Linked DNA regions of Homo sapiens: regions 2 and 3 are each linked to region 1. The links come from fine-mapping of genetic effects on gene expression. A gene starts in region 1. Each other region holds a variant in brackets. All regions are shown on one strand. Distances are from middle to middle.

Evidence for each region. PIP is the estimated chance that this variant, and not a neighbour inherited with it, causes the effect. A credible set is the group of variants that fine-mapping cannot tell apart.
Region 2: its variant is the best candidate, but not a certain one, in a credible set for the expression of DISP1 in thyroid (GTEx, PIP 0.89).
Region 3: its variant is the best candidate, but not a certain one, in a credible set for the expression of DISP1 in cerebellar hemisphere (GTEx, PIP 0.89).

What each region holds. Positions count from the first base shown.
Region 1 is chr1:222,813,406-222,816,166 of GRCh38, forward strand. It overlaps DISP1 (dispatched RND transporter family member 1), which reads left to right and starts at 1,634. Exons shown (of 9, transcript NM_001377229.1): 1 at 1,634-1,673. RefSeq lists an enhancer at 1,025-1,084 and silencers at 1,325-1,404, 1,495-1,594.
Region 2 is chr1:223,016,930-223,019,690 of GRCh38, forward strand. No RefSeq gene overlaps it. Among named protein-coding and RNA genes, the nearest start is that of TLR5, 120 kb to the right of the region's middle. The variant C/G (reference allele first, on the strand shown) is at 1,224.
Region 3 is chr1:222,938,411-222,941,171 of GRCh38, forward strand. The region is part of intron 2 of DISP1 (dispatched RND transporter family member 1); the gene reads left to right. Among named protein-coding and RNA genes, the nearest start is that of DISP1, 120 kb to the left of the region's middle. The variant G/A (reference allele first, on the strand shown) is at 1,532.

The sequences.
Region 1 (2,761 bases):
ACACACTCTCTTCTTTCCATCCTTTCAAAAATACACCTTGCCGCTATGTGAATCAGTTATTTCAAGTATCACCACAAATGGACTACTAACCTTCCCAATGGGAGAAAACCCAAACGCGTGACCTTTTACTTCACTTAGAGTTGATGTTATGCCCTCTAAGTACAGACTTTCTACACGATATCCATTCCTCATTTTCTTCTACTGTAATCCTATCTCCATATATTGCAATGTATGGCCTTTTGCTGGCAAAAGGAGAAAAAAAGAAAAATGTATGTATTATACCATTCCTTTTTAAAAAGGCAAAGAAAGGGCTTGGTGTGCAAGAGAGTATTTATTAAACACTGGTAGCAAAGAAAACAAACAAAAAATGCAACAGTCCTCATTACTGTAGCTGGTGTTGAAGCTTCTTTCTTCTGGGCCCATTCCATAGTTCCCTGTGACTTCAGTTAGCATCTCAGTTGGTTGGGGTGATTTGCTCAATGCAGCAACCTGAGGGGTATGATCCCTTGTGGTCCTGCCTTTATAGGGTTGTGGTAGCCGTCTATTGCCTTTACATCTGGGTATGGCAGTTCAAGAAAGCACCCTCAAGGATAAAACATGCTATTCATGATGTATTATTTTTCTTTGATGACTAGGACAATCCCCCTAGTCAACCCCATGACTCACTGTTTTGTCTATTCCCTTAGATGACCCCACGGATTCCGTTGCACGGAGTCTCTGAAGTCCAAAATTTTTAAGCATAGGGCACAACGTTCTTCATGATTTGGCCTTGTCTCTTCTCATTATGCTTGCTCTTGCATCTGCCATCTGACACTTTGCTTAACTCCTGGCCAGCTACCGGTACAAGCCAAGCTCTCACTCCATAACGTCCTTCTTCTCTGCATGCCCTTCTCCACTGTGCCTGTCCTTTAACTCTTATTCATCATTTATTTCAGTCTCAATTGAAGAGTCATTATTTCTAGAAAGCCTTCTCCGCCCAGCTCTCTACATTGCACCGTTCCCTACAGCACCACCAGAGTGCCTCTAACACTTGATGGTTTCATTGCTTATATATTTTTGTTTCTGTGCATAAGCCTCCCGAGGGAGCCGCCGCTGTTCGATTTATTCTATAGCTAGTTCCTCGCCCTGAGTGTAAGCCTCACGAGAGTGGGGCTGTCCTCTGTTCGCTCTATCCCCAGCCCCTACAGCAGTGCCTGGTTGTTCACAGGCCTATATAGCAGGTGATAATAATCTGAATAATGAAAGAAGAAACACTGTCTTGTGGCGTGATTTACTTCTGTTTTTACTTATGTCAACTTTTAACTAGATTGTGAGGACAGAGGTCAGTGTCTGAGTCATCTTGTGCCTCACTGGGCTTGGGCAGAATAGACGCTTGGTCAAGCATTTGCACACTGGTCGATGGATACACTAGAAAGAGCAGGAGCGCGAGAGGGAATTTTTTTGGCGCCTGCCTCGCCCTTTCAAGCCAAGCCCCTCTGCCCTCTGCCCCTTGCCAGCCGCCCGTCGCCCGCCGCCGGCGATCCCTCTCCCGGGGAGCGGTAGTCAAGCGAGGCCAGCGGGCCGGGAGCGGGCCGGGAGCGGGCGAGGGGCGGGACTTCCGGTCCCGCTCGCGACGCGGACCGCGCCAGGCGGAAGCCCGGCTCCGGGCCAGCATCCGAGAGCCCGGACTGGAGGTGAGTTCGCAGCCGGAACGTTGCAGGCACTTGTTTCCTCAGTGGATGCCTTTCGGCGCGCCGCCGCCCGGCGCCGCGGGACTGGGAGACCGGGTAGGGACGGGAGAGTCGGCATCTCCCGCGCGTGTGGAGGGAAATCCGGGACCCCAGGCTTGAGAGAAGGGCCAGGACTGAGAACGGGGAACCAGGAGAGCCCTAAGGGCAGCCTTTAGGGACTGAGGAGGGAGGCACCGGGGACCCTGAGGCCAAAGAGGCCCTGAGACTGGAGGTTGCGGATGACACGGGGCAGAGTTGCATCTCGGAGGAAAGTAGTCATTCGTGGGGGCGTGTCCCGGGTCCTGGCGGATTGACTGAGAGGATGGCAGGAGATGGCAAAGGTTGGCTTCCAGGGAGAGGTTACAGAGGAGGGAGTCAGTCCTTCTCTGAGGGTCGTAGGTGAGAAGGACGTCTTGACCTAACGAACCAGAAAGATGACCAGCCACCTATTGGATGCTGAACTCCTATTGCTTCATTTGCAATTCATGCAGTTTGTTTTTTGTTTTTAGAAATATATCCCGCTCCGCGCGTGTGGATTTCGGGAAAATATTGTATATTCCTAGGGACCGCTCGAATTCTTGCTTCACCCAGATTCTGCGTGTCTTTGTCAAACTGATAGTAGTTGAGAGTTCTCTTCACCCAAGGAAGACAACCAAAGTTTTCCTTTTGGACTCTTCTCTACCCTGCAGAGTTTAGCTTGTCTTATTTCCCTTGTCATGGGATGAACTAAATGCGTTCAGAATTATGGTGATAATCACATGGAAAGCCAGTGCTGTCAATGTTTGCAGTTTCAACTCATTGTTTTTCTGTCCAACTTTCTAACACATTTTTTCTAAAAGCTATTTTGTTGGGTTTAGTCTTTTAGTTTAACCAATAAAGGCAATTTTACATCAGGGTGCAGCAAATTACTAGCAGTTCTTAAGATTTTACTGTTCCTTTTTATTTCTGCTGTAAGGAAATATATATATATATATATATATATATATATAAATATTTGCCATTGTCAGTGTTTTTTAAAAATATTGATAACCCAAGATCTGTTGTTACACGCA
Region 2 (2,761 bases), 200 kb after region 1:
TCAAGCCAACAAGGTGTGCCCTGTCTCTTTGGAAGCAAGGCTTCTGAGATGATTAGTGGCTGTCTGGTGACATCGGGCTTGCTGAGAAGGCAGGCACCAGGCTGGCTGGAGAAGGTTTGTTGTTGGTGGGCAGGCGCTACGGCGCCCACTGCTGGGTCTTGGTGCATCCAAGGGGAGCCAGCCCTGCAGATCTGCCCAGTGCTGGCCGGCCGGGTGGCCAGTGGGGTCAGTCTGCTTCTTGTGTGGCTCTGCCTCTGGCTTTGCATCAGGTGCAGGGGCAAAGGGGTCATGGCTGGAGAAAAGTGGTCAGTCTTCTGTGGAAAGCCAAGGGGCTTTCTGTGTGTGCTAGAGGGCAGGGCCCATGGGTCTCGCACAGCCCACCACAGGCAGGCCGGGGCCCCTTCTCACCACCTCCCTACCTACTGGTATTTCTCTAGGGCTCCCTCTCCCCTACTTTCTCACAAGCTGAAGAGCCTGTGGCCTCCACCCCCAGCCCCTGGGAAAAAGCCTGGCTAGGAAGCAGTTGCCTGGAGTCCGGCAGGAAACCTGCACTGGTGTGGCGGAGAGAATGGGTGGCTCTTCCTTATCTGCCGGGACGGAGCAGGCCGAGGGGTAAACAGGAGGCTGTCCCAGCACCGGGAATTCCTGGATGAGGTGTTCCTCTTTAACTGGAAGGAAGGGATATCCTGTGTATTAGTCCATTTTCATGCTGCTGATAAAGACATACCTGAGACTGGGAAGAAAAAGAGGTTTAATTGGACTTACAGTTCCACATGGCTGGGGAGGCCTCAGAATCATGGCAGAAGGTAAAAGGAACTTCTTACATGGTGGTGGCAAGAGAAAAACGAGGAAGAAGCAAAAGCGGAAACCCCTGATAAACCCATCAGATCTCATGAGACTTATTCATGAGAATAGCACGGGAAAGACCGGACCCCATGAGTCAATGACCTTCCCTGGGTCCCTCCCACAACATGTGGGAATTCTGGGAGATAGAATTCAAGTTGTGATTTTGGTGGGGACACAGCCAAACCATATTATCCTAACATTGATTATCAAGATGGTCTCATCCAGGAATCCTTCCAGACCCACAGTAGGAAGGGGTGAGATGCATGTTTGATTTTGGGGACTGATGGCCAGGATACTCTCTGGGTTGGAGCCAGGAACCAAGGCCCCTTGAGGCCCGGCTTTGGGGACAAAGCAGAGAGAAATCAGGATCATAGGAG[C/G]ACTGTCTGAGGATCAGCTAGGCCTGGATTCAAATCCAGACCACCCCTCGCCAGTGTGAGCTAAGCCCGCACCTTAGCCTCTCTGAGTCTCATCTGTGGATGGGGGTCACACTGCTTGCCTCCCTGGGCTGCCTGTGACAGTGTGCACACCCTCCACACACCACATTCGGGCCCCAGGTGGACATTTGCTAGGAAACTGCACAGCCTGGTTCCACTTTGTCATTCTGAAGCCACAGCTTGCCTGTGTGAGTGGGGACAAGAATAAGAAAGGACCTTGCCCAAAGTGCTCAGTCTTCAACACTGGCCCCTCTTCTGCAGAGACCTTGCAGGACAGGGCCTAAGGAGATGTTGTGGCCACTCGATGACCTGCCGTCTCTGTAGGGGATCAGGAACCACAGGTCTGGGTTGGCGCTTGGGTGGAGCTGGGGATACATTTGGGAGTCTGGCCCACATCACTGTTAGACACACGGAAGACTCCCGCCAAATCCATAGTCACCAGGCCTGCAGGGACCCTCCGAGGATGTAGAGAGAACTGCCTGACTGAGGATGGGGCAGTCATCCCTTCCTGTGTCCGGGCAACTGGAGAGAGCTGGGAGTCAATACCTCACATGGATGGTGGGGCCCAATAGCCCCGGCCGCATGTGCTTATTGAGCACTTAACATGGGGCTCATGTGAGGGAGGAAGTGAATCTTTAATTTTAGCTTATTCCCATTTAAATGGCCACACACAGCTAGTGGCTGCTGCCTTGGCTAGCCCAGGCTAGGCTGCAGTGGTTCCCAAACTTTCATGAGTATAAGAATCACCCAAGGAGCTTGTTGAAAAGTAGACTCAGAGATTTGGGTTCAGCCGGTCAGGGGAGAGGTCAGGGGAGAGGCTCTGGAGTTGCACCTTAATAAGCAGTCCACACTCTGATTTAGGGGCCACCTGGCCATCCGTTCTGTACTCCTCCTCCTTTCTTTCTTCCCAGCCCAGCTTTCTCTTTTACTGTCTTCTTATTCTGTGCCTTTGCCTCCATCATTTTATTTCCATTCCATTCCATTCCATCTATCTACAATTATGTGTCACTTAACGACAGGGGTACATTCTAAGAAGTGTGTCATTAGGTAATTTTGATATTGTTGTAAACCAAAAATAAAATTGTAAGGCCCCACCAACTATCTGAATGGACTCCTGCTCTCTTCCAAGGGCATTCCAAAGTTAACCTGAAAAACTAGTTCAGGCCTTGACAGGAACTGGGAGCTGGACATACCTCATCATTCCCTCCTCCCTTTTGGAATTACTGACAGAACAGACTCTTTAAGTCTGATAAGAAACATTTACAGTCTGGTCTCCCTGAAGCCTGCTACCTAAAAGCTTCATCTGCATGATCAAACCTTGGCATCCACAACCCCTTATCTCAACCCAGACATTCCTTTCTATTGATAACAACTCAACTAATTGCCAATCCAAAAATCTTTAAATCTACTTATAACTTGGAAGCCCCTGCTTTGAGTTATCCTGCCTTTCTGGACCAAACCAATGTACTGTTACATGTATT
Region 3 (2,761 bases), 130 kb after region 1:
CTGGATTTTTTCCTCATTTATCTCAGTTCTAAAGAAAAAGGAGGCTGGGCATGGTGGCTCATCCTGTAATCCTAGCACTTTGGGAGGCTGAGGCAGGAGGATCGCTTGAGCTCTGGGATTTGAGACCAGACTGGGCAACATAGGAGAACCCACCTCTACAAAAAAATTAAAAATTAGCATGACATGATGGTACATGCCTATGGTCCCAGCTACATAGGAGGCTGAGGCAGGAGGATTGCTTGGGCCTGGGAGGTCTAGGCTGCAGGAAGCCATGATCGCACCAGTGCACTCAAGCCTGGGTGACAGAGCAAGACCCTGTCTTTAAAAAAAAAAAAAAAAAAAAAAAAAAAAAGGAAGGAAGGAAGGAAGGAAGGACGGGATGAAGAGGGGGAAGGGATGATCTTTCTCTGTATGGGCCTTAGGGTTAACTCCTGATCTCAGAGTGAAATACTTTCCTATTCTGGCTGGTCACCTGAACACCTACCCAAATGCATCCATTGAACTTAAATAATCTATAGACAGTTCATAAAATATTTTTTCTGTTTTTGCTTCTAAATTTTTTTACCTGTACTTTTTACATACTTATGAGGTCAAATTGATTGGTCCCATGTTATAATTAAAGAAATGGAATCAGAGAACACTCATGTGACTTGCTTCAAATACAAGCCAAAGTCAGAGTTCAAATTATTCTTTACTAGTTCCTACTTCATTACAAGAAGTCTCCCAAGTTACAAAATAGGTTGTGTTCCAAAAATTCATTTGTAAGTCAGTTATTTGGCATTTGAACTGCATTTTACCATGTGGAAAAAACATGTTATAAGTGATGATTAGGTCCCCAGCTGGCATATAAGAATCTATTTAACTCTTGTGTAACTACAAAACGATACATTTGTAATAAATTTAAAAGAGAATGATAGTTGTGATTCTGATTATGAAGAAAAATAATTTTTTTTTTTTTTTTTTTTTTTTTTTACTGAGGATAAGCAGATTTAATTAGAAGATAGGAAAACATGAAGATTGAGGAGGGTCTAGAGGGGATTTCAGGGTTCTTTGAAGGGAGTTAGAGGTTGATGGGATTCTGTCTGAAGCCCAATGTATTCAGTTCTTGCACTACCATAAAGAAATACCTGGGCTGGGCACAGTGGCTCACGCCTGTAATCCTAATCCCAGCACTTTGGGAGGTCGAGGTGGGCAGATCACCTGAGGTCAGGAGTTCGAGACCAGCCTGGCCAACATGGTGAAACCCTGTCTCTACCAAAAAATACAAAAATTAGCTGGGTGTGGTGGCACACACCTGTGATCCCTGCTACTCAGGAGGCTGAGGTGGGAGAATACTTGAACCCAGGATGTGGAGGTTGCAGTGAGTAAGCCAAGATTACACCACTTCACTACACCCTGGGCAACAGATGGAGATCCTGTCAAAAAAAAAAAAAGGCCGGGCGCAGTGGCTCACGCCTGTAATCCCAGCACTTTGGGAGGCTGAGGCGGGCGGATCACGAGGTCAGGAGATCGAGACCATCCTGGCTAACAC[G/A]GTGAGATCCCGTCTCTACTAAAAAATATGAAAAATTAGCCAGGCGTGGTGGTGGGCGCCTGTAGTCCCAGCTACTTGGGAAGCTGAGGCAGGAGAATGGCATGAACCTGGGAGGTGGAGCTTACAGTGAGCCGAGATCGCGCCACTGCACTCCAGCCTGGGTGACAGAGCAAGACTCCATCTCAAAAAAAAAAAGAAAAGAAAAAAAAATAACCTGAGACTGGGTAATTTATAAAGAAAAGAGGTTTCATTGGCTCACGATTCTGCAGGCTGTACAGGAAATATGGCAGCACCAGCTCAGCTTCTGGCGAGGCCTTAGGAAATTCACAATCATGGCAGAAGGTAAAGGGGAAGCTGGCCAGAGAAGGAGAAAGTTGGCCGGGGACATGTGTCACATGCTTTTAAACAACCAGATCTCAGGAGAACCCACTCACTATCATGAGAACAGCACAAAGAGGGAAATCTAGCCCCATAATCCAATCACCTCCCACCACGCCCCACCTCCAACACTGAGGATTACAGTTCGACATGAGATTTGGGCAGGACACAGATCCAAACCCTATCAGCCAGTTTCACTTTGAAACTTTTAAGTCATTTGTTGTTATTAGATGCTTCTCACTGGCATGACTTACCCAGCATCTGTGATTAGAATCAGTAGAATTGATTGAATTAAATACCTAGGAAAAAGTAGACTATTTGAGATGATACATTAACCAACCTGGGATGGTAAAAACAAACTAACAAATTAGAAGTATTCTTTCCTTCAGCCCTCCTGATGGAAAGGGCAGGAGGAGTTGACTTTCCCATTTAGCCCAGCAGATTCCCATCAGCTGTGATAGTTTAACTGAGGTACAGGTGGAGGTTGGAGAAAAGCGTGTGCCTGCAGTGATTTCTTTGAATGGAGTGCTCGTACAATGAGAGTTTCTAATTCTGGGAAATAATTACATTGATCTCATCTAGTGATTGTTTCCTACATTATCTAAGACACAATTAAACATCTTAAATTTCAATTAGCTTTTTTAAAAAACGTCCAGTGCTTCTTTAAATGTCCTTTATGTTTTGTTATTTTCATAACCTTTGCATATGGCTTTTTCTTTTGTTAACAACAAAAGGGAGGTTATATTCTTCAGTAAACTGAAGCATAAATGAGCAGATCTTGCTGAGATGGCACATTTAGAAAATGATGAGATTAGTTCTTGCCTCCTGGATCACATTAGTGCTCTTGCCGGT